7 linked regions of the Homo sapiens genome follow. The protein of the gene in region 6 interacts with the protein of the main gene of each other region in a pairwise test. Each region holds a gene or a part of one and is shown on either strand. Other genes may lie near its edges. The genes, in order: ZNF423, KIAA1328, CCP110, MAPK10, CEP131, CEP290 and CEP162.

Evidence for each region.
Region 1: the proteins of CEP290 (region 6) and ZNF423 interact in binary tests that used the Homo sapiens proteins (3 or more experiments, as listed by UniProt).
Region 2: the proteins of CEP290 (region 6) and KIAA1328 interact in binary tests that used the Homo sapiens proteins (3 or more experiments, as listed by UniProt).
Region 3: the proteins of CEP290 (region 6) and CCP110 interact in binary tests that used the Homo sapiens proteins (3 or more experiments, as listed by UniProt).
Region 4: the proteins of CEP290 (region 6) and MAPK10 interact in a two-hybrid assay, tested with the Homo sapiens proteins (one large-scale study listed by BioGRID and IntAct).
Region 5: the proteins of CEP290 (region 6) and CEP131 interact in binary tests that used the Homo sapiens proteins (3 or more experiments, as listed by UniProt).
Region 7: the proteins of CEP290 (region 6) and CEP162 interact in binary tests that used the Homo sapiens proteins (3 or more experiments, as listed by UniProt).

Annotation. Positions count from the first base shown.
Region 1 is NC_000016.10:49,628,695-49,632,829, forward strand, and holds part of ZNF423 (zinc finger protein 423), read right to left. Parts: intron 1-4,135. UniProt on the Homo sapiens protein: Transcription factor that can both act as an activator or a repressor depending on the context. Plays a central role in BMP signaling and olfactory neurogenesis. Associates with SMADs in response to BMP2 leading to activate transcription of BMP target genes.
Region 2 is NC_000018.10:36,831,963-36,836,097, reverse strand, and holds part of KIAA1328 (protein hinderin), read right to left. Parts: exon of another isoform or gene 2,710-4,135; intron 1,896-2,709; exon of another isoform or gene 1,825-1,895; coding exon of another isoform or gene 1,779-1,824; coding exon 1,743-1,778; intron 865-1,742; coding exon 722-864; intron 1-721. UniProt on the Homo sapiens protein: Competes with SMC1 for binding to SMC3. May affect the availability of SMC3 to engage in the formation of multimeric protein complexes.
Region 3 is NC_000016.10:19,526,550-19,530,684, forward strand, and holds part of CCP110 (centriolar coiled-coil protein of 110 kDa), read left to right. Parts: intron 1-1,317; 5' UTR 1,318-1,332; coding exon 1,333-1,473; intron 1,474-4,135.
Region 4 is NC_000004.12:86,353,314-86,357,448, reverse strand, and holds part of MAPK10 (mitogen-activated protein kinase 10), read left to right. Parts: intron 1-2,804; 5' UTR 2,805-2,919; intron 2,920-4,135. UniProt on the Homo sapiens protein: Serine/threonine-protein kinase involved in various processes such as neuronal proliferation, differentiation, migration and programmed cell death.
Region 5 is NC_000017.11:81,201,931-81,206,065, forward strand, and holds part of CEP131 (centrosomal protein of 131 kDa), read right to left. Parts: intron 1,678-4,135; coding exon 1,564-1,677; intron 469-1,563; coding exon 310-468; intron 1-309. UniProt on the Homo sapiens protein: Component of centriolar satellites contributing to the building of a complex and dynamic network required to regulate cilia/flagellum formation.
Region 6 is NC_000012.12:88,134,954-88,139,088, reverse strand, and holds part of CEP290 (centrosomal protein of 290 kDa), read left to right. Parts: intron 1-2,302; coding exon 2,303-2,446; intron 2,447-4,135. UniProt on the Homo sapiens protein: Involved in early and late steps in cilia formation. Its association with CCP110 is required for inhibition of primary cilia formation by CCP110.
Region 7 is NC_000006.12:84,171,795-84,175,929, forward strand, and holds part of CEP162 (centrosomal protein of 162 kDa), read right to left. Parts: intron 3,554-4,135; coding exon 3,420-3,553; intron 3,161-3,419; coding exon 2,933-3,160; intron 2,395-2,932; coding exon 2,254-2,394; intron 1-2,253. UniProt on the Homo sapiens protein: Required to promote assembly of the transition zone in primary cilia. Acts by specifically recognizing and binding the axonemal microtubule.

The sequences.
Region 1 (4,135 bases), on a different chromosome or scaffold from region 6:
CTGCCCTAAGCACAAATGACCCCAAGAGTTCCTACAGCTGGTTTCCACACACAGGGGCTAGTACCAGCTGCCTGTGGGAGCTGAGGGCAGAAAAACTGAGATGAGAAGCTTCAAAGCTTCTTGAAGAGTTGTTCCAAAGAGTGAACCTCACTCACACAACTAATCCCAGATGGTTCTGAAACACCCCAGGGACAGAGGTGGTGTTGCCCATCTGAGGGAAGGACTGTGGCTGTGGGGTTTTTTGAAGAAAGAGGGGTGGTATTGGAATCACAATATCCAAGTTTTTTGAAGACCACTTTGGTTCCTGGGATGAGAGGGCTTCTCTTACTTCTGGAAAAGGGAGCAGGACTTCACACTTCTTGGCCAAGGTCCCAGGCCCAACCCTCAACTATGCAGCCAGATGAACCACCAGGTAGCTTAACCATCTCAGCTCCTACTTCCCTCTTTATCATTCTGAAATGTTATGATGAGCTCTTGCATGGTGCACACTTTTCTTTCCTTTTACTTTTAACCTACCTGTGTCTTTATATTTATAGTCCAGGCCCTGTAGATAGCTTTCAATTGAGTCTTGCTTTTTTCTTTGCATCTAATCTGACAATCTCTACCTTTTGATTGAAATTTCAACTCCATTTATACTTAGTGTAATTGTCAATATGGTTGATTTTAAATCCTACCATCTTTTGAATTAATTTCTATTTTATCCTACCTGTTCTCTGTTCCTATTTCCCTCTTTCCACCCACACCCACAGTTCCCTAAGTAACTACAGGCCTTTGCCTGTGCTGGTTCCTCTATGTGCAACACCCCCTCCATCCTTGACTCAATTCAAATGTCATCTCTTCTGAGAAGACTTCTCTTTTCACCCCAGAATGGGTCCAGGACCCCCTCCACATCCCTGAACTTATGCTAAAGGACCCTGGGTAATTAATACATTGTTGTGTCAGGGTGGATTGGTTCATCTGCTCCCCTCTTGCACCATGAGCACCCAGAGAGCCAGGAATGTGTTTTGTCTACCTTTGAGGCAGCACATGAAGTGCTTAACAAGCATTTGCTGAACACATAAAGTTGCAGAATAACATATGCAGAGGAGTCTATTCAGGCAGAGGTGACAAAGAGAACCAAAGATGACTTCAGTGTCCTGGACCCACACCACCCTAGCGCAGGCCTTACCTAGAGTCAGTGCATAATAATTATTTAACTTTTATTACGATTATTATTGGCGCTAAGAAAATGCTGCTTGAACAAATGAATGAATGAAGAAACAACTGGAGAAGCTGAAGCTGGATGCGTCAGGCTCCAGGACCTGCTCTGACAAAACCAGGGGCCTTTCCCACAGTGTTTCAGAAGACCTGGGGGATTCGCTGTGTCCTGAGTACAGGCCACAGCCTGGGGCCCAGACACAGGCACTCTGCATGGAAAGGCCCTGGGAAGAGCTAGGTAAGTCGGGGGCAGGGTGGAGAGAAAGACAGGGCTGGGGAGTCCAGCCTTGCCACAGACAAAGGAAGACGTCTAGGCCACAAGGAGACTACAGGGCCTGAGGTCTTCTCAGGAGATGCAGCCCAGAGTACACATCTCAGGTCAACTCCAGGGCCATGGTCGTGGAGATGAACCACCTCGGGTGTCTCCAGCATCAAAACCATCCCTTCTGTCTCACATGTGCCCCCACCTACTCTGCTTGGCAAAGTGCAAGAGCCTTTGGTGGTTGAATGAATGAACGAATGAATGGAATGAGTGAATTAATGAATGAAGCACATCCCAGGAAGGGAAGCTTCATCACAAGGAAGCCCATGGGAGGCCTGCTGGATGAGGACCGCCCAGGCCTATAGGTGGGTGGGTGGGAGGATGGGGTTGGTACCAACCAGCAGCAATGGCTGCGGGCAGATGACCACGTCCCCCCTCCAAGGATGGCGATTTGCTTGGGTGCAAGTCTCTAGAGGCTGCAGCCATGGCTGGTCCAGAGGCATGCAGGGAACAGTCCATGATCACAGTGACTTGGTTGATCTTCTCAGGGGCAGGTGAATAAAGGGAGCTCACTGTGCTTGGAAAATACATCCCCAGGGGCTTGGGCAGGAAAACAGGCTGCCCTCAAATGCCTCTCTGCCACCCCTTGGTAATAGGAAGAACACTGCCCAATAACTGAGCCCCTCCTGGTGGGGCACTGGGCTTCATAGGGTTCAGAGGGTTCCCAAGGGAAGGGCCGGGAGAAGGGCTGACCCCTCACATACACACAAGACACACACACAGATGTGCAAGCACACGTATGCATTCACATGCTCACTTTCACCCCAACTCACCAGCAACACACAAGACCTTCACAGACACACCCGCAACCCCTACACACAGCAACCTGTAACACAGATACATATGTGCAACCCCCAGAGAAGCAGGGCCATCCACATGGGTGAACAAGGCCACACAGATGGGCATGTTCACACTCATCCAGAGACCCTGCCTTCAGCTCACTCACCACAACCCCAGTACACACACCGGTACTCCCAAATACGCCCACAGACATGCATGCAGCTTCTGACACAAGTATACACACAGACCCATCCCCACACGTACCACACACCCTCATGTACACACATGTAGACTCATAAGTGCTCACATGTGCACTCACACATAGGCACATACACACACAGGCTCACCAGCCCCCAAACCCTCCAAGCATGGCTGGACTCCAGTCCTCACCCCAACATCTATTCCTAGTCTATCCCCACTCTCAACCCCCCTGGAGACCCCCTCCTCCTGCAGCTTCAGCCCCCACTAGGAGATATAATTACAGAAAGACAGAACTTGGCACTCAAAGCACCTCCCCTGCCATAAGCCCCTTCCCTGGGGCCCAGCCCAGGAGAACTAGAGCTGAGTTCCAGGGCCTGTGGCCAGGGCTGCCTCCCCCAACACAGCCCTGAGCAACTGCAGAGGGGGGCCCCGGGCAGGAAGAAAACACACTTGAGAATGGCAAAGACAGGAGAGGGAGGGCAGGGAAGAAATGGCCAGGCCCTTCAAGACAGGAAGGAGAGAAGGAAAAGCCAGCCAGAGCTGTTATATTTCCATGATCGTGAGCACTGCCAATGTTCACTGAGCACTTGCCATGTGTGGGCAGCATTTATGCTAAATACTCACAAACCCTCTGCAAGCTCCACCCTAGGGATGGGGTAAGTGGAGTTTCAAGAGGCTGCATCACTTGGTCAGAGCCTCTTGCTGGTGAGTAGGAGAACTGGAATTCGATGCCCACTGTCTGAGCTGCCATTCTCAGCTCCATGTCCCAGATCTCCTGCCAGGCCTGGTCTAGGTGACAGAAAGCTAGTGGGATCTGGATAGGCCCTCTAACCTTGATATCTGTTTACTTGGCTGTAAAATGGGTATGAGAACACCTGGCCTGTCCCACCTAGCAGAGAAAGGCACCGTGGGGATCTGCAGGATCAATGGATGGCCAGGGTCTGCCCGTGCTGGTCTCGAGTTGGGGTGATGTTGTCATTACCCATAAACAGAGGGGGAGGTGGAACTTCAATGCTTCATGCTCCAGCCGACAGCAGCCTCAGCCCCACAGGAACCCAGTCCTCTGAGAGCTGGTTGCTATGGATACACTCCCGAGGGTCCCAGCCTGCCAGCCCCCAAGCCCCTGTGAAACCCCCAGAGTCTGTTCTTACATGAGTGGGTCCTCAGGGAGGGAAGGGGTGGGCTAACTGACATCTGGGCCCCTGTCCCCAGGTGTGCCCACACAGGGGGCAAGGCCCCAGAGAATGCCGCCTTGCCTGGGGAGGTACCTGGGCTTTGTTTCTGCAATGGCCCATCTCCCCAGGCCTCCAGGCAGGCAGAGCCATGATTTTCAGCTCATCCCTGCTCACACAAGGCCCAAAGGCAGGGAGAGGAAGGCCTGGGGGCCCCCAGGAAACACGGTCCCCTTGAGTTTCAGTCCCTGCACAGCCGCGCACAGCTGTGCATCCTTGGGTATATGGCATCACCTTTCTGAGCTGGAGCCCCTCTTTACCAAAACACAGGCCACAGCAAGGTTCCTGGATTGTTGCTACAGAGATGACCTAAAAGTTGGTGCCCAGCAGAGCACCACTCACATAGTAGGGGCTTTCACAAAGTGGTGCTTGATGCCGGATGCAGAGCACTCCAGGGAGGCTC
Region 2 (4,135 bases), on a different chromosome or scaffold from region 6:
AGTAAATGTTTTTAGCTTGTGGGCATGCAGTCTCTGTAGCAACCCTGCTATTGTAACACAAAAGCAACCATAGACAATTATGTAAAACAATGAGCACAGCTGTATTCCAAAAAACCTTTATTTATAAAACAGGCAGAAGGATTTGGTCCACAGGTTATAGATTCCAGAACATTCATATACAAGTTTTGTGTAGACATCCTAGTGAGTGTGAAGTGGTATTGAACAACTCTGGTTGCAGAGGGAAAATATAACAAAAATTAAAGTAAAATAAACTGGTCAGATAGGACATGTGCCAAAGGAATGCACCGATACTATTACTATGCCTAGTCATTGATTTGTCCCTCATCTTTACGAGGGTTCATCTATCAAATAAATTCACAAGAATAAAAATCAAAAAGGATGCCTAATTAAAAAGCAATTCTCATCAGTTTGATTTACCAATGCCACACAGATCAGAATGTAGTTCTTTTGAGACATATCAAGATAATACATTATCATGGCTAATGCTTACAGCAAGTCAGATGTTTTGGAGCAAAACCCTTGAGTAATCCAGATAATTTAGGCTCAAACCTGGCATCATCAAAGGATCCTGGAATCCTCTGTATCTTTTAAGAATGTTTGTTGATCACCTAGTATACTTTCAAAGGTTCTTCTACCCTTTTTGGTCAGCACTCATAAAGACTGGAGAGCAAGGAAAAAAAAAGACGAAAAAAATACTAACCTGTTCATCTACTGAATCTCCTGTGCCTTTTAAGGACTCCATGGAGATTGAAGCATCAGTCACCCTGGAAGTCTTAAGTTTAACATCAGCTTTTGGACTCATCAGCTTGTGTCTTGATCTGACATTTCCTTCAGCAGAAATTCCTAAGGATTTCCATTAAACAAGATTTCAAAATTATACCTTATTATCTTAAACCCTCCCCCATCAACTCCTTCCTTGGAATCCTCTACTTTAAGGGACCTGATGGAGGAAACTCTCTTACTTTATAAACTTAATTTTAAAGCTCTTAATATATGAATCATAAAAAGAATATGTTTTAAAGAAATACACTAAAGATTGAATTGAAATTTGTTTTTATATTTATTTTTTTAAAGAGACAGGGTCTTCCTATGTCTATCCAGGCTGGACTTGAACTCCTGGGCTCAAGCAATCCTCCCACCTCAGCCTCTGGAGTAGCTGGAACTACAGGATCAAGCAACCACATCCAGCTTAACTGAAATATTTGTAAAGGGTACTGTAAATATTCATAAGTCACATTAAAACCAATAAATTACGATATGCCAAATATATGTTAACTTAGGGGAAATCAATGATATTTTTCACCCTATATAATGAGGGTGCCTTCAATAGTTGCTTTACTACCATCTAGTTACAACCATTAAACTTGAAGTGCCTCTTACATATACCCTGTATCAAGCAGTAGTCACACTTTTATTTGAAATATTAAATTTGGCTATCATTTGTAAAAGAAAAAATAAGAAAAGAATCTTTTGCCCCTTGCCACATGAAGTGTTCTACAAGTTCATTAAAAGCTGATTGGGCCAGCCAATCCCAAAGATAAGCCAGTATTTCAAACCTTAATAGGGTTATGACAAATATTCAAAAAAAACAAATTTTAGGTTTTGATGTACTGCTCTGCATTCAGTTATTTATACCCGCAACATTGTTCTAATAGCTTTATTTTCTTCTAACATTTAAGGACCAAAGTAAGCTTCCCAAATTTTAACATAGAAAATCATACCTGGAACGTATACTACTGATTGTTCTTCATCAGAAACTACGCAGGAGAACATGAAGGAAAATACAATAATATTATCCGGCATCCAAATGCTGCTTCTGTTCTGTATACCTCTTATAATTCATAATTTCTTTTGACCTGGGAATTTGTAACTAACTTTTAAAAACAAAGTTAGAAAGCAAAGTAATTGAATTAAAAACAAAGTTAGAAAGCAAAGTAATTGAATTAAATGTAGCAAAATTAATATTCTCTAAAAGTTCACCTTTATATATTCACAACTACACATCTTATAAAAATCTTGGAAGGTCTTGTTCCATGAAACTTTTATCCACTCTCAAGTGGGTTACCCTGCAATATATACTCTACTATTAGGTTCCTTTCCTTTTGTAAACAAAAACTTAAGTGCTCCAGTTTGGTCATTACTGAGGAACTGACAATTCTGAAGAGTAAATAATTTCAAGATAGACTTTAGCTTTGAAGAACAAACACTGAGGGCAAGTCAATCATGCAAACACAAAGACATTATTTATTCTTCTACAGTGTATTCATAAAATATCCCAAGAAGCCCTACTATTTAAAAAGTAGAAGAAATTTAAGACAAAAAGAACTATTTTGAATTTCAAAAGGAGAAATTTAGAAAGGCTATGATTATAACACACTGTTTTCAACTGTCACCTTGATCCAACTCAACTTTTCCTCTCCCAGGATTATTGCAATAAGCTCCTAACTGCTCTCTGTCACTTCTGTGCATGTTCCCTTAACAGCCTATTTTTTCACACAGTGGTTAGAATGATCATTTTAATAGTTATGTCATTTCTAATTTAGATTAAAAGCCAAAGTATTAACAACAGCCTGCAATGCTCAAGATCTGATCCCTGTAACTTGTTACATCTCTGATCTCACTTGCTACTATTCCTCTCACTCATTCCTGGCTTTCTTATAATTGTTAACAAGCTATGCAAGCTCCTACCTTATAGCTTCTGCAGGTATGATTTCTTCTACCCAGGAAGCTCTTTCCTCAAATATCTTCATGGCTCACTTTAGGACTTATGTCATATGTCATGTCATGTCACCTTCTGATTGAAGCTTTCACTTCCTAACCATATAGGTACTTGAAATTGCAAAACTCTCTCTTCCCACAACCTACCTACCTCCCGCTACTATCTGCCTCTTTCCTGCTTTATTTTTTCTCCACAGCACCAATATCATTGAACATAGGCCAGGTGCAGTGGCTCACGTCTGTAATCCCAGCACTTTGGGAGGCCGAGGTGGGCATATCACGAGGTCAGAAAATCGAGATCATCCTGGCTAACACGGTGAAACCCTGTCTCTACTAAAAATGTAAAAAAAAAAAATTAGCCGGGCATGGTGGCGGGTGCCTGTAGTCCCAGCTACTCCAGAGGTTGAGGCAGGAGAATGGTGTGAACCCAGAAGGCGGAGCTTGCAGTGAGCTGAGATGGCACCACTGCACTCCAGCCTGGGCAACAGACCGAGACTCTGACTCAAAAAAAAAAAAAAAAATCATTGAACATATATTTTCCTTATTCATGACCTGATCTCATCTCACTAAAATGTAGGCACCAAGAGGGTAATGATTTTTGTTTTATTTTGTTCAGTGTTGTACCCTCAAACATAAAAGAATGTCTGGCTCCATCTATGAAAGAATAAAATTGGTATTGATTTAATTTTATGAGGTGTTGTCCAACAACCTTATATGTTATATTTCTGTGATTCTAAATATGCAAACAAAACTTTTTTTTTTTTTTTTTTTTGAGACAGAGTCTCGCTCTGCCACCCAGGCTGGAGTGCAGCGGTTTGATCTCAGCTCACTGCAACCTCCACCTCCTAGGTCAAGCAATTCTCTGCCTCAGCCTCCCGAGTAGCTGGGATTACAGGTGCCCGCCGCCACACCTGGCTAATTTTTTTTGTAGTTTTAGTAGAGACGGCCGTTTCATCATGTTGGCCAGACTGGTTTTGAACTCCTGACCTTGTGATCCACCTGCTTTGGCCTCCCAAAATGCTGGGATTACAGGTGTGAGCCACCGCAAGCGGCCAACAAAACCTTTTACTTTCAGCTACATCCATGACAAATTTATTTTCAAATATATAAAACTCTAAACAAACTACTTCAATATTTTTAATAACAATATTTGAAATTGCCTCTATCCTTTCTAATAATTTGTAATGTATTTTCATCTCATTATATTAAGAACCCAAATATTTACCTCCTTCAAATCTAGAATTTCCCAACAAATGTATATTTTATGGGGAAGTCAAACAGACACATTATATACCAAATGTATAGTGGGCCTACTAGTGGGTCATTTCTAGATTATTTATAATACCTAAAACAATGTACATGCTATATAAATAGTAGTTAAATTGTACAGTTTAAT
Region 3 (4,135 bases), on a different chromosome or scaffold from region 6:
CTTTGCATAGATTGAACACAAATAATTACAATTGATTGAATAGTAGGAAGAAGTTTTGTTATTGATTAAACTATTTAGAAAAAATAGCATTATATCTTATTTTTTTATAACCTGATTATAATTTTGACTATTTTTTTTTTCCCATTTCTCATTGCACTATAATTTGTCCCTGATACTTTGGTGTACTGAATTTTTAAGTACTTTGAGGCCTACCGAGGACATATCCTATTTCATCTTTGCATATCCCACATCATGAATTGAATTTCCCTGCCCTCTCTTTTTTTGTTAAGAAGCTAATTATTTTAAAATGAAGACATAAAGGAACATGATTGTATTCTATTTTCTGTTTCCATAGTTCATACCCTTGCTGGTTATGATTCTGATAATGTCTTTTTATTTTCCCTTGCTTATTTAAAGGAAACAGTGCCACACATAATGCTGTGCAAATAAGCAATCAACATTTACTGTTTGCTAAATGAATGAATATGATGCCTAATCCCTCCTGGTTACCTTGTATTTTCATAATCACAATTTCCCAGAAACTGTGAAATTACTGGGATTGTTTTAAGTAGTTTGGTGATGGTTCCAATTTTCAACAATAAAATATAATTAATATCAGAGCCAATCGATTTGCTCTTTTTTACCTCTGACTGAGTTGGCTGGTGCTCATGCAGTCCAAGTATAGTGTTAAGATAGGCAAATTGAGGCAGGAGGATTGCTTGAGTCTCAGAGTTTGAGACTATAGTGCACTGTGACTGAACCTGTGAATAGTCACTGGAATCCAGTTTGGGCAACATAGTGAGACCTTGTCTCTTTAAAAAAAAAAAAAAAGATATGAGAGTAACCTCTGAACTTCAAAATAGAAAATTTTTAAAAGTAAATATTCTTTGATTTAAGTAGGCTTTTTTACTACAGTGTTTGTACCTTTGTATGATATAGTTTTTCTTGTGTAGATAAGTCCTGTTAAAGAAAATATAATATCCTGTTTTACAATGTGAAGTTAGTAAAGATTTACAGAACTTTGTTTCCTTTAAGAAGGTTTTACTGAATTCTTAGCTAAATTAATCCCATTTAAAGATTGATTTACATGCAATAATATTCAGAAATATTTAATATATAAAGTAAATCTTAATTGGACAGGTTCTTGAGGTGAATTACCATACCCAAGAATTAGCTCCTGATCAGTAAGACAATTCTGGGAGGACCAGTTATAGGAATTGTGAATTATAGGGACTCTCTCATGCTCTACAAAATCTGCCAAATAATTAAGATCTGTTTTTCCCAGTACATTAAAAATAACATTTTTCTCTCTTGTAGTGTGACTGTGGGAAGATGGAGGAGTATGAGAAGTTCTGTGAAAAAAGTCTTGCCAGAATACAAGAAGCATCACTATCCACAGAGAGCTTTCTCCCTGCTCAGTCTGAAAGTATCTCACTTATTCGCTTTCATGGAGTGGCTATCCTTTCTCCACTGGTAAACTTGCTTTGTTTTTAAATAGTTTTTTTCTGTAGTGAACAACTAAAACAGTTCGTGGAAAAACAAAAGAAAGGCTTATAAACATTTGAAGAGATGCCCTCATTCAGAATTAGAGAAATACAAATGAATTAGCATTTTTTACTTACTATTATAGATTGGCCAAGACCTAATAGAACTTTGTGTTCCTTAGATTGTGGAGAAAATGCACTTTTAATGCACTTTTGCTAAGAGAATCAGTTTATTTTATTTCTAGATGAGCAGTTTGGTAGAATTTAAAAGCATACATAGCCTTTGGGTCAGCAGTTCCATTTTTGGGTATATCCTACAATTATATGTGAGCCCAAAGAAATAAGTACAAAGTTACATTAGCATTGTTTAAAATAGCAAAGGTTGACGAACCACCTAAATGTCCATCAGTAGTGGAGTAGTTTAACTATGGTCTATTTTATAAACTCTCATACATACCATTACAGTAAGGCAGATGTAAATGTTGAGGCATGGAAGGATCTCAATGATCTAGTGTAAAACACCGTGTGCAGCATGCTGTCAGGGGCAGTATAGAGTCATGATTAGAGGTCCAGACTCTGGGCCAGGCACAGTGGCTCACACCTATAGTCCCAATGCTTTGAGAGACCGGAAGGAAGAGGATTGCTTGAGACCAGGAATTCAAGACTAGCCTGGTCAACATAGTGAGACCTCATCTCTATAAAAACATGTTAAAAAATTAGCCTGGCGCAGTGACATGTGCCTGTAGTCCCAGCTCTTCAAAGGCTAAGGCGGAAGGATCGCTTGAACCTAGGAGTTGCAGGCTGCAGTGAGTCAGGATTGCATCATTGCCTGGACTACAGAGAAAGACCCTATCCCAAAAGAAGGAAAAAAACTCCAGCCTGGGCTAACAGAGCAAGACCCTATCCCAAAAGAAGGAAAAAAAAAGTCTAGGCTGTGGAGCCTTCTGGCCTGGGTCCAAATCATTGCTTTGCTACTTACTTGCTGTGTAAACTTGTGGTCCATTTTCTTATTTGTTAAATGGGGATAAAATAGTGCCTACCTCATAAGGCTATTTTGAAGATTAAATGAATTCGTAGATATAAAATGGTTAGAATACCACCTGGATCATAAGAGGTACCCAATATAAGTTAACCATTTGGGTTTTTCAAAGGATGGCTATTCCTTTTCTGGGGAGTGGTGAGAGAATATAGGATAATAGGGAAGACACTTCATCATACACCCTTTGATACTAATTGGATATTTTAAAAATGCATATGACTTTATTTTAAATCACAAACTAATATTAGAAAAAAGTGAGCTTTAAATTTATTTTTTGGTATAACAGGAGTTAAGAGATTAATTTTAATTAATTGAATTGAATTTTTAAAGACACCAGAGCTAACTGCCAACTTTTTGTAATGAAACTTTCAAACATACAGCAAAGTTGAAAGGATAGTGCAGTGACCACCCATAGATTTACCATTAGATTAAATAATTTTTAACATTGTTGTCATCTTTGCTTTATTGTGTTTGTGATTTTTATATACATCTATGTGTGTGTGTACATATGACATTTTTAAAAATTGCCTAGCTATTTGAAAACCACGGAGACCTGACACTGCTCCCCTAAATATTTTGGTGTACATCTCTTAAAAATAAGGACATTCTCCTATGTAAAGCCCCAATACCATTATCACATCTTAAGAAAACTAATAATTTTTAATAATATCTAATAATTCTGTTCATATTTAAATTTTTCCATTTGTGCTCAAAATGCCTTTTATAACTTTATTCCCCCAATCTGGATCCAAAGTTCACAATTAGTATTTGCTTGTTATGTTTCTTTATTTTAATCTAAAATAGCTACTGTACGTCTTAAAAACAGTTTTTTTTATTGGTTGAGCATGGTGCCTCACGCCTATAATCCCAGCACTTTGGGAGGCTGAGGTGGGTGGATTGCATTGCTTGATCCCCAGAGTTTGAGACCAGTCAGGGCAACGTGGTGAAATCTCATCCCTACAAAAAATACAAAAAAGAGCTGGGTGTGGTGGCGCGCACCAGGAGTCTCAGCTGCTCTAGAGGCTGAGGTGGGAGGATCACCTGAGCCCGGGAGGCTGAGGCTGCGGTGAACCCTGATCATGCCACTGCACTCCAACCTGGGTGACAGAGTGAGATACTGTCTTTAAAAAAATAACAAAACTATGATACTGAATTTTTAAAGAGACCAGAGCTATTGTCTTGTAGAATTCCTTAGATCTTGGATTTGTCCCATTGTTTCCTAATAGTGTTATTTAACTTGTTTCTCTAGTCCCTGTAGTTCCTATGAACTGGAAGTGAAGTTTGATAAACAGGTTAAAGATTTTTGGAATTCTTTGAAGATAGGGCTGGGCGGGGTGGCTCATGCCTGTAATCCCAGCACTTTGGGAGGCTGAGACCAGCCTGGCCAACATGACGAAACCCCGTCTCTACTAAAAATACAAAAATTAGCTGGGCGTGGTGGTGGATGCCTGTAATCCCAGCTATGTGGGAGGCTGAGGCAGGAGGATCCCTTGAACCCAGGAGGCGAAGGTTGCAGTGAGCCAAGATCCACTGAACCCAGTAGGCAAAGGTAGTGAGCCGAGATCGAGCCACTGCACAACAGCCTGGGCAACAGAGTGAGACCCTCTCTCAA
Region 4 (4,135 bases), on a different chromosome or scaffold from region 6:
CCTAAGTAATCTAGAAAAACCTCCCATGTTTAAAGGCATAAATATATTTTTAAGGTTTTATTGTGGTTTCATGTAAATGAATCTGTTTCTTTGGATGTAAGCCTAGTTATAAATTCTTTTTATACTGATACTAAAAGCTAAAGACAAATTGGGTATTTACTTGTTTGTTAAATATGGGGATAGATGTTCTCCCTTCATGCTCTAGTTCTGGCCTCAGGTCACATTTGTAGCCAAAGGACTTTCAGTGGAATTGGTGTGTTCAAATCGAATGATTGCTTGGTTGCTTATCAGAATAAAGGACTCAAAGCAAGAGAGACTTCCTTCAATTAGAATGAGAAGCAAACACATTGTTGTCTTAAATTCTTTCTTCATTGCCCTTTCTATTTCCTCTTACAGTCTCTTTTAAGCTTTTGGTTGGACATTGCAACAATCATGCAGAAAGAGGCACGGAAGTGTCCAGTAGTGACAAGAATGGAGTACAATGCTCTATTTGCTGCAGGACTGCTGAGTGCCTTCCTCCTACCACACATGCATCTATTATTGCACCTTCTTCTGAGGACCAAGGACTTGTGGAAAAAGTTGGGCCTATAGACTAGTAGGGGAGATGCTTACTGGTAAAGAAGAACAGAATCCATTTGCTTCTTTGGCATATTGGATATATTTATTGCATTACATAAGCCTGAGATGAGACACTGTACTGCTGATTCAGATAAAAAGATCATGCTGCATATTGATTGTTTAAAAAATGTAACTTAGAATTGGAGCCCATCTTTTCAGAAACCTGTACGTGTTTGCAGAGTGAAGTTGTAAGGTTTTGACTCAAGATTTTTCAGTTTGAGTACATTTTATCCTCATGAACCGATCAAGGCAAAGAAGGGGAAAATACAAAACCTGTGTTTTGCATATCTTTTGTTTTCTGTATTTAATAGGGAGAAGCTGTATTTCTTATTGTGAATCTTGGTAGAAACTCTTAAGAGGAGACATCAGGTAATATTGAAAATCACTAAATATAAACATTTTAGGTTTAAAAAGTAGACCTCACACATATACTATTTCTGGTAAAGGATTTTCTAGTTTATTTGATGTTTTGGATCCATATCAAGCCACTATGGCTTTTCTTACAGTTCTTATCTCTGGTGACTATGAGATGTAAAATCCTTGAGGCTTATGGAAATAATGCTAGTAGGAATGGAAATTGAAGTTTTCAATGGAAAAAGAAATGAATACAGTCTCCTGAGAAGCATCCCTAACCACAGCTGCTCTAAAACCCTGCATGGTGTGCAGGTTTAAGGCAAAGCTTCCCTATAAGGCAATTGGGCATTTGCAGTGACCTGCACAGTAATAAACAGGATTTTCACTACCTTGTGTTTGTACACGTGTGTGTGTGTGTGTGTGTGTGTGTGTGAAGAAAAACAAAAACAAAAACAGCAGTGACTTTAAAGTTCTAGAAATTCATCTTAGTGACTTGTCTTCATAGAAATAAAACTGACTCCTGTTTGTCTGTGTTAACCTGCCTGGGTGCCCTATGTGCTTTCTGAAAATGGATTGCTTAAAGCAATTGTCCTCTTCTTATACATTGGAAATAGGATCTGAAAGCATTGATAGTGAAGGAAAGCTCTTAGGTTAGGTCTGTTTATTTGGCAATGTTTATTCAGTGTTTGTAGGCGGAAGCTCCAGCACAGCATTTATATAATATAGTAATTGCCTATTCTTCTATTACCTGTATTCTCTACTAAGGTTTAATCCCCATCAGGGACTGACTTTTTCTGTTTGGCACACAATAGGGACACACCAAATATTCATTGAATGAATATCTCTCATGTACTGAGTTCTCTGCTAAGTGCTATGGTAGAAAAAATTGGGAAACTGTAACACAGTTTCTGCCATTTGGAACCTATACTCATTTGGGAAGATGAGGCTAAATAACAATAAAGATGGTATAAAATCAAGGGCCCATATTAGTGTTTTGATAATGAGTGCAATAGAAATTCAGAGGAGAAAGGAATTTACCTCCTCTGAAGTGATGGTAGGTGACAATGGGGCTACACTGGGGTGTTGGGGTGAGGTGGTGGGATAGTGAGAGGGTGGTAGTCCTAGGAGTAATTGTGAGCACCTGGGCAGGAAAGAAACTCTTACTTGGGGTAAAGAGGAGGCCTATTTTGGGTATGATGACCATATTTTCCAAACTAGAAATAAAAACTTATGGTTTGACATTGGGTAGAATGTTGCAGACTGCCACATATTCTGAAGAATCTTGTCTAATATAATGTTGGGAAGTAACAGGCTATAATGGTGAAAAAGTAGGTTAGTAACTAGAAGAACATAAATACAGGTCTCTTCAGATGAGCTCCAGCTTAGGTTTACTTTCTTTTGCATACTTCAGAGGTTTTCAAAATTCTCCTCCTTTATTGGTACCTATGTAACCATTGTTCCAATGAAATCTTGTATGAAAAGCAGAATATGTAAATCTATGTAATAGTGGAGCTGTCCCAGTTGAGGATGAGTGGGGTGCCTTGTATTAGAAAACCAAATTCATATCACAAGACTAATTATATTAACTGAAATAAGAATTACTAATTTAGTTTATGCTCAGATATTAAAATAGTTGTTCTGGTATTATAACATCAAAGTTCTTGTGCTTGCAATAAATGATGAATAGAGATAATTACCTTGAGATATTTTCTTTCCTCTGCCTACACTCACCCACCCAGTAACCAACTGTCTTTGATGTCAGCTTTTTGGTTTTCTAAATACAAATTTAAATCTTAAAATCAAACTCATCTGTTTTTTGGCTTTGCTTTCAGGCTAGTGTGAGAAACACCAACAGCAGGCCCATCTCAGATCTTCACTATGGCAACTTATGCAAGAAACTGTTGAATTAGACCCGTTTCCTATAGATGAGAAACCATACAAGCTGTGGTGAGTTGCCAATTTAAAAATATTCCTTAGCATGAAAACTAGGATCTATATAGCCAATTTAAATATTGCATATGGTTTTGTACATGGAGCTGGAGAAATACTGCTCCAAATAATTTCGACTACAGAAGTGAAAATCAATAGAACAGAAGTTTAATAGTTGGTGTGGTACTACTAATACCACATACAGTAGTGAAAAGTCTTGAGGTGCATGGGTGCAGCATATAACACCATGATACTACCACCATGGATGATACCTGCAATTAACATTTTCATGTGGCAGAGTAACAGTTGGGTACCATTATTTTTAAGTGACTTTTATTATTTGCAACATTGTACTATATTTTACAGATTCATCTCCTTTAGTAGAAAAATTGGTTCTGAGCTAAATTATGGTTTTCTTTCAGGAACACACACACACACACACACAATTTAGCTCTTCTGAAATAAGAGAAGAGAAATCACAGTTTTATAAAACTCAATTCATGGGCATTTTAGCCTACAAATCCTTTTGCTTAACAAAGCAATGTTAAAAATAGATACAGTTGCTCTGCCTAGTTGGAATGACTTTAAAACTTATTACTTTATAAAAATATCAGCACACACAGGTAGAATGTCTTTTTAAATCAAATACTTGATGCTTCATAGTCACCAAAGTCAATAATCAATAGATTCCAGCAGAGATGAACGAGTTATAATCTGTCAAATAACATCTTTGAGAACTAGAGTATGACTGTGGTGCTTATAAGACTCCAAAAGAAGCTATTTTGAGCTAGTGATCAATATCTTTCTTTCATTTGCCTAGTGGCTTATATAACTGTAGATAGGTAGGCTGCCCTGTGAATTAATGCACAGCCTATGACTGCGGAAGACTGATGAAATTAATCCTAGAGTTATTTCATATAGTGAATTTATAAAACAATTCATAAAAAACAATCCATCTACCATTATATTGAGAAAGCAGATCTAATAGCATCACTATACTGTGCTTAATTAACATGTATTCAATGAGCGTTATAAATAATTTTATGCAATTGCCAATAACAAACTATTTTTGACCTAAAATAAGGGCAATTTTATATGGTTGAAACTAATATATTATGTGTTACTCCCAGTGATGTAGAAAGCATACCATGTTCTCTCCATTCTGAATATTAATTCATTAATCAAACTCTTATTGAGAATCTGTGATGTAGGTAGAATGTTTAGCTTTTGGGGC
Region 5 (4,135 bases), on a different chromosome or scaffold from region 6:
CTCTACTAAAAATACAAAAAATTAGCCAGGCGTGGTGGCGGGCACCTGTAGTCCCAGCTACTCGGGAGGCTGAGGCAGGAGAATGGTGTGAACCCGGGAGGCAGAGCTTGCAGCGAGCAGAGATCGCGCCACTGCACTCCAGCCTGGGCGACAGAGCGAGACTCTGTCTCAAAAAAAAAAAAAATTAAATTAAAACAATTATTAAATGGAAATTTCTATCCTCGGAGGTGTGAGCCCCCCAGACCCTGATGCCTGCCCACCTCTGTGTTCTAGGCTCAGGCCCCCCCCCACCGCCCCAAGATCGGTCACCTCTCAGCCTCCTCCTCCGTCACCTCCTTCCGCCTGGGCAAGCCCGTGCTGCCCCCAGTATTGTTCCGGGCTGAGTGGGTGGCACTGGAGACATTCTTCGGCAGCTTCCCAAAGCCGCTGCTCTCACTGCCCTCACAGGTGGCTGCCTTGATGATGTTGCTGACAGGTAAGAAGAAAACACCCTCGTCTCACCGCCCAGGGGAACAGCTCTGCCCACAGGCAGCAGGTGCCCACTCCCGGAAGTCCCAGGACTGAGCCTGGAAGTGGTGCTGGCAGGCTGGCAGCCGGGGCAGAGGGGGACAGCGGCAGGTGCGAGGCCGGCTCTCCCGTGCCACATCCTGGCCTCTGGACCACCTGTGCCCTGACAAGGTCCCACTCACTGGTACCCAGGATAATGAGCTCTTTGCATTTAAAAACTTCTCACTAAAGTTACATTGAGAGGCTGGGTGCCCTGGCTCACACCTGTAATCCCAGCACTTTGGGAGGCCAAAGCGGGCGGATCACCTGAGGTCACGAGTTCGAGACCAGCCTTGCCAACATGGTGAAACCCCATTTCTACTAAAAACACAAAAAAATTCGCTCGGCATGGTGGCGGGCACCTGTACTCCCAGCTACACGGGAGGCTGAGGCAGGAGAATCGCTTGAACCTGGGAGGCAGAGGTTGCAGTAAGCCGAGATCATGCCACTGCACTCCAGCCTGGGCAACAAGAATGAAACTCCATTTCAAAAAAAAAAAAAATTCCATTGAGAAAGTTCCCAAAAGTCACAGGAGTCCAGAGCCTGAGGGACCCCTGAGCAACCCCAAGGCCATCCCCAATCCCCGCAAGACCATGTGGTGGTGGACTCGGGGGCTCCTTTGCCCCGCTCGGTCCACCCCCGCTGTGACGCCTTCTGGGCTCTGCACAAGCCTTGGCTTCCTCCTGGGGGCCCCACCTCAGGGTGAGCCCCAGACCTCACTGTGCCACATCTGGGCTGTTTTCTCTCTGTGGGAAGCTGCCGACCCAAGAACAGAAGAGGGCGGCGGACGTGGATGGGGAGCCCGGTTCACAGCTGCTCCACGCGGTTTTACGTGCACTGACCACGTGCCCTGACCGAGGTTGGACCCCATGCACACTGACCGCATGCCCTGACCAAGGTAGAACCCTGTGTGAACTGACCGCGTGCCCTGACCGAGGTCGGACCCCAGGTGCACTGACTACATGCCCTAACTGAGGTCGGACCCCGCAGCCCCGCGGCCTCCCCAGAAGACCTTACTTGAGGGAGGGGGCAGTCTGGTTGGAGCTCTTGAGCGGAGGCGCCCTCTCCGAGGGGGTGTAGCGGTTGTGCACCATGGTGGTGACGCAGTTGCCCACTGCTCCCTTGTTGCTCCTGCCAGGCCGGAAGAGAGACAGGAATGGTCAGGCCTCTGGAGGGGACGCCTGAGATCTCAGAGCTACACTCGCAGCACGGGCTGGGAGGGAACAAAGGCCTTCAGTGCTTGCTACGTGCTGGCAGCATTGTCGTCCAGTGTCCCCAGGCCCCTTCCACAGCCTGCGCCCTGATGATGGGGTTCTTCCCAGGACAGGAAAGCTGGACCAGGGGCTCCCACGGGGCAGGGGATAGAATCGAGGCATGAACGCTGGACGTGCCCAAGACGGGGGGAGCAGCTCAGGCCAGCAGCTCACAATCAGCTTCCAGAGCAGACTCACAGAAGCGAAGCCCCATCCCACACGACGGATGGAAGCCACATTCTCTGCCTCTGCCCCTCCGCAGACCCGCAGGAAGGCGGGAGGACAGGACCAATACCGAGGCTGACAGGAGGGATGGGGAGACTGCAGGAAAGGGGCATCTGCAGACCTGGAGGATTAGAAACAGAAGGGCCAGCAGAGAGCAACTGGGACACAAGGGAGGGTCCAGGCATTGTGGGGAGGGAGGGCGAGGAGCTGGCAGGTCCCGTGCCCCCACGGAGACACACTGTTCTCCCACAGGCATGGACAGGCTTTGAGGCAAAGGGGAGAATCTGGCTGCTCGGCAAAGCCCCTTCCCTCACTTGAGCCGCTAGCATCCACCCTGCCCTCCCCAGCTGGCCCTGCAGGTGGGGCAGAGATGGGTGATTCACCCAGGACAGCCACCGCCACCCCTCCCCAGCAGTGCAACCGGGCAGCCAGGACTCGAACCCTGGGGCGGGCTGGGGGTTTGTCTCTGGAGAGACTCAGCCTGTGAGGAGGGTCCCACAGACACTGGTAGGTGGGGATACTCAACAATGCCTTGCTCTCTGCACCAGTGCCCCGAAGTGAAGCCACCAGGCAATAGGCTTCCAGCTAACTCCTAGGGCCTCCCTTTTAACAAGAACCACCAAGACATCTGGGCAAAGACCAACATGTCAGAGGCCCAAAATCAAACCAACAGAACATGATGGGAATGAGGATAAGCAGAGAGCAGAGCAATGCACGAAACCTGCTCCTGCACCAGCCTGCACCTGCACCGGACCACACCTGCACCAGCCTGCACCTGCACCGGACCACACCTGCACCGGACCACACCTGCACCGGACCGCACCAGGCACCAGCCCACGCCCAGCACCAGCCTGGCCTGCACCTGGCACCAGCCTGCACTCACAAACGTTCAACAGCTGGTTCTTGGAGCGCGGCTCATCTGCCAATTTGGGTGGTGTGAATAACCTACCAGGACTGATTTTGAGCTGTTCAGGAATGAGCAGCATGGCATGTATTCATAAATGTTTTCAATAAAACACTAAATGGCCGGGCGCAGTGGCTCACACCTATAATCCTAGCACTTTGGGAGGCTGAGGCGGGTGGATCACAAGGTTAGGGGTTCGAGACCAGTCTGGCCAACATAGCGAAACCCCGTCTCTACTAAAAATACAAAAATTAGCCTAGTGTGGTGGCACACGCCTGTAGTCCCAGCTACCCAGGAGGCTGAGGCAAGAGAATCACTGGAACCCGGGAAGCGGAGGTTGCGGTGAGCCGAGATCACACCACTGCACTCTGGCTTGGGCGACAGAGCGAGACTTCGTCTCAAAAACAAAAACAAACAAACAAAAAAACACCAGAAGAAATAGCTTGAAAAGATGCTGCTCCTCAGGGGCAGGCGCCAGGGGTAGGAGGGGCGGCAAGAGTGTGGGTAGGAGGGGCAGCAGTGGGGTAGGAGGGGCAGCGGGGCAGTGGGTGGGGGGTAGGAGGGGCAGCGGGATGGGGGTAGGAGGGGTGGGGGGGTAGGAGGGGCGGCGCGGGGGTAGGAGGGGCAGCGGGAGGGGAGGTAGGAGGGGCAGGGGTGGGGAGGGTAGGAGGGGCAGCACATTTTAAGCCTATGGTGCTGTTTGACATTTTGGCTGTGTATGAACATATAACTGATAAATACTAAGGTAAATTTTAGGACCAGGTGTGGGGGCTCAAACCTGTAATCCCAGGGCTTTTGGGGAGGTCAAGGAAGGAGGATTGCCCGAGCCCAGGAGTTTGAGACCAGCCTGGGCAACACAGCGAGACTTCATCTCTACAACAAATTTAAAAATTAGCCAGGAGTGGTGTTGTGCACCTGTGGTCCCAGCTGCTCCGAAGGCTGAAGGGGGAGGATCTCTTGAGCCCAGGAGGTAGAGGCTGCAGTGAGCTATGATCGTGGACTCCAGTCAGGGTGACAGATGAGAACCTGCCTCTAACTTAAAAATAAATTAAAAAGCAAGAATTGAGCTGGGTGCAGTGGCTCACGCCTATAATCCCAGCACTTTGGGAGGCCAAGGCGGGTGGATCATGAGGTCAGGAGATCGAGACCATCCCGGCCAACATGGTGAAACCCTGTCTCTACGAAAAAAATACAAAAATTACTCGGG
Region 6 (4,135 bases):
TTTCAAATTTTAAAATTATTGTTGGCTGGAAAAATTATAAGGATGATTGTAATCATGGTTATTTGTTTATTCTGTATATGTTCTACATGCCTATTATGTGCCTTATATAGTACTAAGGACTGAGCATATGGTTGTGAACAAAATAAGAAGTTAACTGCTGGATGGAGCTTATAGTCTTGGGAAATATACAGAAAGATTACTAGTAACTGAGGTGGAGGGTGGGTGGGGATTTGAGGAATAGTGACGAAAGGGTGTTATAGAAGTAATTTTTGACAAAGCTGAAGGCTAAAATATGAATGTATTGTTGAAGAACAAAATACATTGAGATTCCTGAGAAGGTAGGAATGTGATACAAATGGATCAGCCTTTGAAAGGAGGAATACCCTTTTCCTTTGTGTTAGGAGAGGAGGATGAGTGGATGAGCGTGGGAAGAGTGGATGTGTATAGAGGCTTTTATGTTTGTAGGCATAATGCTTGGAAGTTGAGGGGTTGGTGATGACATCTTCTGTTAAAAAGAGTGGGAAATGGTGTGGTCACATTTTAAGGAAATTAGGTAAAATTTGAAATATATTGGAGACAGGACTGGAGAGTTGGGGATCTGGAGTCAGACAGATTTGAGTTCTAGTCCTGATTCTTCTACTCGTTAACTCTCTGAACTTGGATGACCTATTGTTTTTGATTGTATATCCAGCTCCTGGGAAAATGCCAAGCACTTTCAATAAATACTAAATGAATTATGGAGTTGGATCAGTTCTGTGTTAGTGTTTAGCTAGGTAGCTGCTGTAGAATAGAAGGGTAGCACAGTTGAAGATATTGGTAGGAAAGTGGTTGAAGTGATGATTATGAAGTCTTAACTGAATAGATAAAATCAAGATTGGGGTTGGGTGGGCAGAAGGGTAGGGATATGGAGGGAGAAGATGAGGGGTTAGAGTGTCCTGTGAGGTCGAAGGACAGGCATAGTGGGAATAATTGAAAGAATGTTCTGGTTGGACAAGGATCTGATGTGGGTGTGGGAGTGAGAGACTATAGTGAATTCAAGAAAAAAATAGACTAGAACAAAAGTTATGTGGAGATTGCTTAGTGGGCATTTGATAGACATCTGTGGGCCACATGCTTAAATTCCCAGTGCATTTTGCGGAGTTACTGGAAGGTTGGTGGCTTGTTTCTACCATGAGTAGGTAAAGATGGAGAGCAGGATATTTTGTGAGAAAGCAGCTGAAGTTTCTATAGGATGATGGAGGAATGATAGGAATGATCACCTGAAGTTGCAGGGTGGGGTAAACCTAGAAGCACCAACACCTTCTTCTGACCCTCATGTATTTGGAATCTGAAAGAATGAGCACCTTCCAATTGAAAGAGTTCCAAGGGCATTAGTATACTAAAGGATCCAAATTGCAGCTAAGCCAAGGAGATGGAAAGGAGGATTCAGTAAAGAATCTGAGGATGTGAAATATTAATTTATCTTGGAAGAGAATTTTAGAGAGCACAATGGAATGCTTTTTGGAGGAGAGAAAGAGTAAGAACAATTTGGTTAAGGTAGAGGAATAACAGAACTATAAGGTGAAGAAATGAATGTGAGACACATTAGATGACCAAATGATTTGATGTTCTTGGCCATGACCTGAATTAACAAGACTGTGAGGTAAAATGGATTTAATCGGCTACAAATCTTAAGATAACCAAAACCTGAGCTGTTTAATATGGTAGCACTAGCACTAACCACTTGTAGCTATTTATATTTACATTGGTTAAAATTAAAATGAAAAATTTAGTTCTTCAGTTGCACTAGCCACACTTCAAATGCCCGAACATAGCTACATGTAGCGAGTGGCTATTGAACTGGACAGCACTGACAGCATGTCCATTATGCTAGAAAGTCCTATGGGACAGCACTGGTCTAAACAGTGCATGGTATGAGAGAAAGGGCAGGTTAAGGCACTCAGCTTCACTGACTGGGGTGGAGATTCTGATGGTTTGTACTCAGGTTCCAGATCCCTGAGGCTCAGGAACCTTTGCAGTTTAGTCTGGTTACCTGTGGCCCAGTGGTTACAACAGAATGATTAACAGTCAATTCTTTGCATCTCTGGGTGGCTCAGGAAAAATTTAAGGAGTTATTAGCTGTGAACTAACCTTAAGTAAGTTAAATTAAAAAAAAAAAAGTTCTTAAGCTAATATGATTTTAAATATCTGCACTGAAGTATAATGCAAATTTAAATTCAGCATAATTATTTGCTTGTTGTTGACTCATTTGAACCTCAAAATATAATGGGATTAATTTATACTTTGGGTTTATTACTTTAAGATGGCTCAGCAGTCTGCAGGTGGACGAGATACTCGGTTTTTACGTAATGAAATTTGCCAACTTGAAAAACAATTAGAACAAAAAGATAGAGAATTGGAGGACATGGAAAAGGAGTTGGAGAAAGAGAAGAAAGTTAATGAGCAAGTAAAGCACTTTTTTTTTCCATGAATCTTCACTGTTCAAGTTACCTGGCTTTTTATTATTATTGGTAACAATATCAATTTTTATATTGTATGTTATATTTGAAAAATGATGTACACTTATCTCTAAGGTTTTATATCACTGTTCATTTTGTCATCACCAATTTTAAAATATAATGGTACTTCTAGTGAATATGACTTGAAGATTAATTCTTTATATTTGGAAGTACATTTTTCTCAGGACATCAAACTTGTTACCTAAAATTAATGCTTTTGTCTGGAAGATTGGTATCAAGTAACTAATAGATTTTCATAAAGAAGTGATCTTTCTAGTGCCATAGTTTATTTTGGGTAAAAGTTATATTTGTTCATTTCAATGTATTTATATGATTAGTAGATTCGCAAATGAATCTTTCGATATATTCAATAATGGTTAATTAAATATCTTGTTTTTGGTTGTACCTTATTTTATGTGAGATATATATATATATGTATAGTTTTTGAAAAGTTGTGTTCATGTCAGCAGTTTATAAATCACATATTTAAAATAACATTTTTAATGCATAGTTTTTATTACCTCGTTATTCCTTGTTATAAACTAATAATTCTTGCAGTGTTCACTTGAATTTAGTTTTAGGAAAAAAGTTTTTTGCAGATCAACTTGTATTTCCTGGAAGAAAATTTCCTATTTTACCTCAGCTTCCTATTTAATGTATTATTTATTTATTTACTTAACATTTATTTGTTTTTTATTTCACCTGAACTGTTAGTAAACTTAGTAAAATTTGGTGCCTACATGTGGTAACTGTCCTGTCCCTTATACTCAGAAACGTTTTCCACCTTTGTGTCCTTTAGGTCATTGTTGTGTTATATTCCATTTATTTTATTTTGTCCATTGTTCTCTCAGAAATTGAGGGTCATACATTTTAAGAAAACAATGATATGCTATTTAAGAGAATGTATCATAAATTGATTTGTAAGGAAAAGTATCCCCATTCTTCATGTATGTATTTTACTCTAAAATGTTGAAGAATCATATAGAAGTTAGCTATGAAAACAATGTGGTAGAGAAAGTATGGATCGATGCCACTTAAATGTTAGGAAGAAGCTCTTAGAGCATTATCTGTTTAGCTAACTGCAAAACATAGCAGACATGTGGATTTTTTAATAGTCATCAAGGATCTAACTTATAATATACACTGGTAGAATTGCTTAGGGGGATGTCTGTGGTTTTCTGGACTTTTGTTCTTCTATATAGACCTGTATCAGTTGACTTATCATTCATACCACACACCCTTAGCTAATCAGAACTACCTTGTCCATTTATATCTTAGACTATTGTCTTTTTTCATAGTCACACACAGAGAAAACTTGAATATATGGCCTGTGTTCCTTTTTGGCTGCTCAATTCCTTGAGATGAAATATGGGTATGGGTTGCTTTGGCAATTACTTCTTTGCCGTTAACCAGTCATTCAGTTTTATTGAGTCTTTACAGCATACCAGAGGCTGCTAGTTACTAGTGATATAGTGGGCAACTATGTTCTGGTTCTCAAGAATATTCATAGTCAATAATAAGCATAACATAGTGATAATATGATACTTAGGGAGATACATAAGGTCATATTCTGGCATACTCTGGAGAGAGATACCGTAATCAGCCTTGAGGTGCAGGATGTGATCTGTAAACTGAGA
Region 7 (4,135 bases), on a different chromosome or scaffold from region 6:
GATTAATCCTTTAAACGGCCTTTTAAGTTTCTTTAGCTTTTGCGTATGTAAAGTCTTTTTTAAACTTTTTATATTATATCTGAAGAAAATTTGGTGTCTAAAAACAGTTCTTTCCATAACATTTAAAATGGCTAATTGAAAAAATAATTTGCAAAATTCCCAAAGCCAAAGGGCCTAAGGTCAGTTTAATGCACTGCATTTCACAGGAGGTAAGTGGGAGAGTGGCTGAAGGAATCACCACATCCTGACTGTGTGGACCCGGGTGGAAAGACCCAGTGAGACCCTTTACATTCTTTTCTGTTTCTGGCTCAAGAGAGGGGAAAAAAAAAATCACTGCTGGAGGAAGATTCTGGAAGTCTGGCTGCCAGTGGTGAGGTAATCAGATGTACCTACGGGTGCTCATACTTGTATCTGCTACTGACTGTAAACAGGGAGTTAAAGACCGGTGTTTCTGAAAGTTGTCAGGACAAGGCAGAGCAGAGGACAGACCCAGTTCACCACAAGGCTTGAGCTAAAGAGCTAAAGAGTGACTCAACCAGTTGAGATCAGAGGGAGAAGAGATGGTGCCAATCTGCACTTAGATGCCCTCCCTGGCTTATGAACCTGTTTAAAATTAAAAATCAGATGCAAACCAAGGGCTTTGAGTATCTAATGCAAACTATAGACTGTTTTACCATGTCTGGAATAGTGCCTGGCGACAGTCTGTGCTTAAATACATGAAGAATTAACAAACATTTCCCCCTACTATTTAGACACATAAATTTTGTGTTGTCTCTGTTGGAGGGGTTGGTCGGCATACTTATGGGTCTGTTAAATTTTCTTAAAAACCTCTGTTTTTTAATGGCAAGATCAAACTGGCAGAAGAATTTGAATGGTTCCCAGTAACTGAAGGCAGTGTGTCCTGCAAAATCATTCCAATTCAGTTACAGCAAACATTGTAATCATTGATGGGGCAATGCTTTTGATGATGTCCCTGGGTGATAATGCATGTTACTAAGGCTCAAGGTTCAAGTTACAGTTGTCAAAAGAGAAGAATGTAATGAGAGACAAGAAAGGAGAGAAGTAAGAAAAAAGGGTGTGGGAGGCACAGAACAAAGATAAAGTCTTATGTTGATTTGAAGATAACTAAACCTGTCCTGGTTGACTGTCAGGCTAGCAACACCAAGATACCAAGATGTCATTACACATTGCAAACATCTGCCTCTATAGGACCCAAAGATTTTCTTGCATTAAATTCAAAATTTTTTCACCCTCAGGGCATTAGCAATTAATTTCAGATTCATATTTCTGAATATAATAGCAAAACCAGCCAATACTGTCTACTGAAGAGCATTACAGGAAACTAAGAAAAGATAGGACAGTTTTTAAGAAACTGGCTATTAAAAATAACAGGTAACTTTCATTGATCGATTGCTGTGTGTCACACTAAGAGTGTACAGATGCTCCTCAACTTGCTTGCCCCGCAAATAGCTATATCCCAATAAGGCCAAAAAGTAAGTAAAAAATGTCCTAAGTTGAAAATGCACTTAATACCCTGATAAACCCAATGTAAAGTCAAAAAATAGTAAGTAAAACTTACGATGAAGTTACATCCTGATAAGCCCATCATAAATTAAAACTTTGTTAAGTCAAACCAGTGGAAGTTAGGGATCCTATATATTATTATCCCCACTTCACAGATGAAGAAACTGGATTAGAAAGATTAAGTGATGCCCAAGGCACACAGCAGGTGGTAGAGCTAAGACTCAAAACCACATTTTTCTAATCCAGAACCCATGCTTTTACCATTTAATTCTCCTCATGAGAAATACACAGACTAGTCAAATTATTATCTCCTATTTGCCAGGATTACCATTATCTGTTAAATAAGCAGAGAAGTATTTTAATATACCTTTTTTTTTTTTTTTGAGACAGAGTCTCACTCTGTTGCCTAGGCTGGAGTGCAGTGATGTGATCTCAGCTCACTGCAATCTCTGCCTCCTAGGTTCAAGCGATTCTCTTGCCTCAACCTCCCAAGTAGCTGGGATGACAGGTGTGCGCCACCATGCCCAGCCAATTTTTTTTATTTTTAGTAGAGATGGTGTTTCACCATGTTGGCCAGGCTGGTCTCGAACTCCTGACCTCAGGTGATCCGCCCACCTCATCCTCCCAAAGTGCTGGGATTACAGGCATAAGCCACTGTGCCTGGCCTGCCTTATTTTTATAACTAAAAGATCAAGAGTAAATTTGCCATATGTTGAAGAATTGCCATACCTGTTGATATCCTTGAAGAAGTGTCTCTTGTTCTTGTATTTCTTTTTGGATTTGCTTCAACTTTTCTCCAGTGACAGGATCAGCTGCTTCTCCAAAATGTAACCACCTTTGTTTTTTGTTTGTTTCTTCAAAGCTGCTTAACTTGGAGAAATTGCAGAAATTGTTTTATTTGGGGAAGGAAATGATAAGGTGAGAAGTGAGAAAGAATAACAGGAAACTCCTATTTAGATCGAAAACTGTCTTATAATATTGAACATATTAGAATGTGACATAACTAGTTAAATCAGCAAAGTGCTGTTTTGTGCTGATGGTGCTGGGTGAGTAAAGGAACTCACAAATGCTACACAATGTCATCCTCTGGGTCTATACCTTCTATAGCAGTTCTTGCTCAAACTTTCATTTCTTTGAAGGTCAGAATGAACTGATTTTCTTTAAAAAGGACTGCTAACAGAAGAAAACCATAAAAATGAGCCAATTTAAATTTAATTTTCTCCCCCAAGGGTTCAAAATTTAGGCTCTCATGTACGGAATCACTCTTGGAACCATTCTATATTTTATACAGCAAATACATCAAGTCAAACATCTCTAGGAACCAAGGATGACAATGTATTTAGCAGGGAATTCAGCTTTTTTTTTTTTTAATAAATATAAAAAAATACCAGAACAATGTATCTAGTACCTTGGCTTGAAGAATATAATTATCTTGATTCAATTTGAAGAGTTCTTTTTCCTGTTGTTTCTTTAGTTCTTCCAACTTATTTTCTAGTTCTTTCTCCTTTTCTGAGAATGTGGCTTTAATTTGCTCAATTAGGGCTTGCGCACCCCTCCATTTATCCTCTGCTTCCTGAACTCTTTTAAACATAAGTAATTTCTTCTCCTTGTTCTCACCACAGTATCCTAAGGAATCCTTTCAAGACAAAGCATTACTTCATTACAGTAGACTTATGTATAAGATTTGAACACAGGTGGTTAATTAAAAAAAGAATAAAAAGGACATGGTTAATAATGTTCTATTATATAAGAAAATTAACTGTTTAGTAAGAGTGATTACAGTATCACTCAAAGGAAAAGACATTTCAGTCCTTATTATATTTTGTTATATATAATTTAGTTTTAATATAATTTTAGAACATAAAACATTATGATTATTAATTTTGAATACCTACAGTCTGAAACTGAATACAGGAATCAGTTTCTGTGGGATTTTCAGACTTCTTACGAGTAGACAGGCAACTTTCAGTTTTGTGAGCTGGTTTATCCAAAGCTGCAGGCTTGATGAGTTTTGTTCCAGATAAGATTTCTAAATATTATAAACAATGTATAAATGCACCACAAATGTAAAGTTAAATGTATACTCATCAATTGTGTCCAATAACTAAAAATACAATGGAAACACAAAAATGAGGATCTCAGAATAGGCTGATGGACTACACTATAACACAGCTGTTTCACTATAACTGATTGCATTCAGAAAGATTGCCACTCCATAATCAACATTCTACTAAATTTGACACAGATGGCCAATTAACCCAAGACTCATGTCAATTGACAAATGGAGCTAAATAAATGTGAGAATGTGGATAGAAATAACTTTCAGAGTTTATTAGTTTTAAATAAATTCTTCTGTTAAATGTTCATAGCAATAATCAATCAAAATTTCTAAATGACAAATCAAGGAGCAGCTGATAACATTATGAAACATTTTGGTGCGGACTAAGTGTGCTTTCAGAGCACATTTTTTATAAACAATGTATATCATGATATTATAGTATCAATGGAATAATATAAATTGCACGGAGGATTTTATAATTGTTAATCTAAATCAGATTTTAAAAGATTAACTCTGCTATAAAAACTTGGCAATATATATTAAATTATAAAA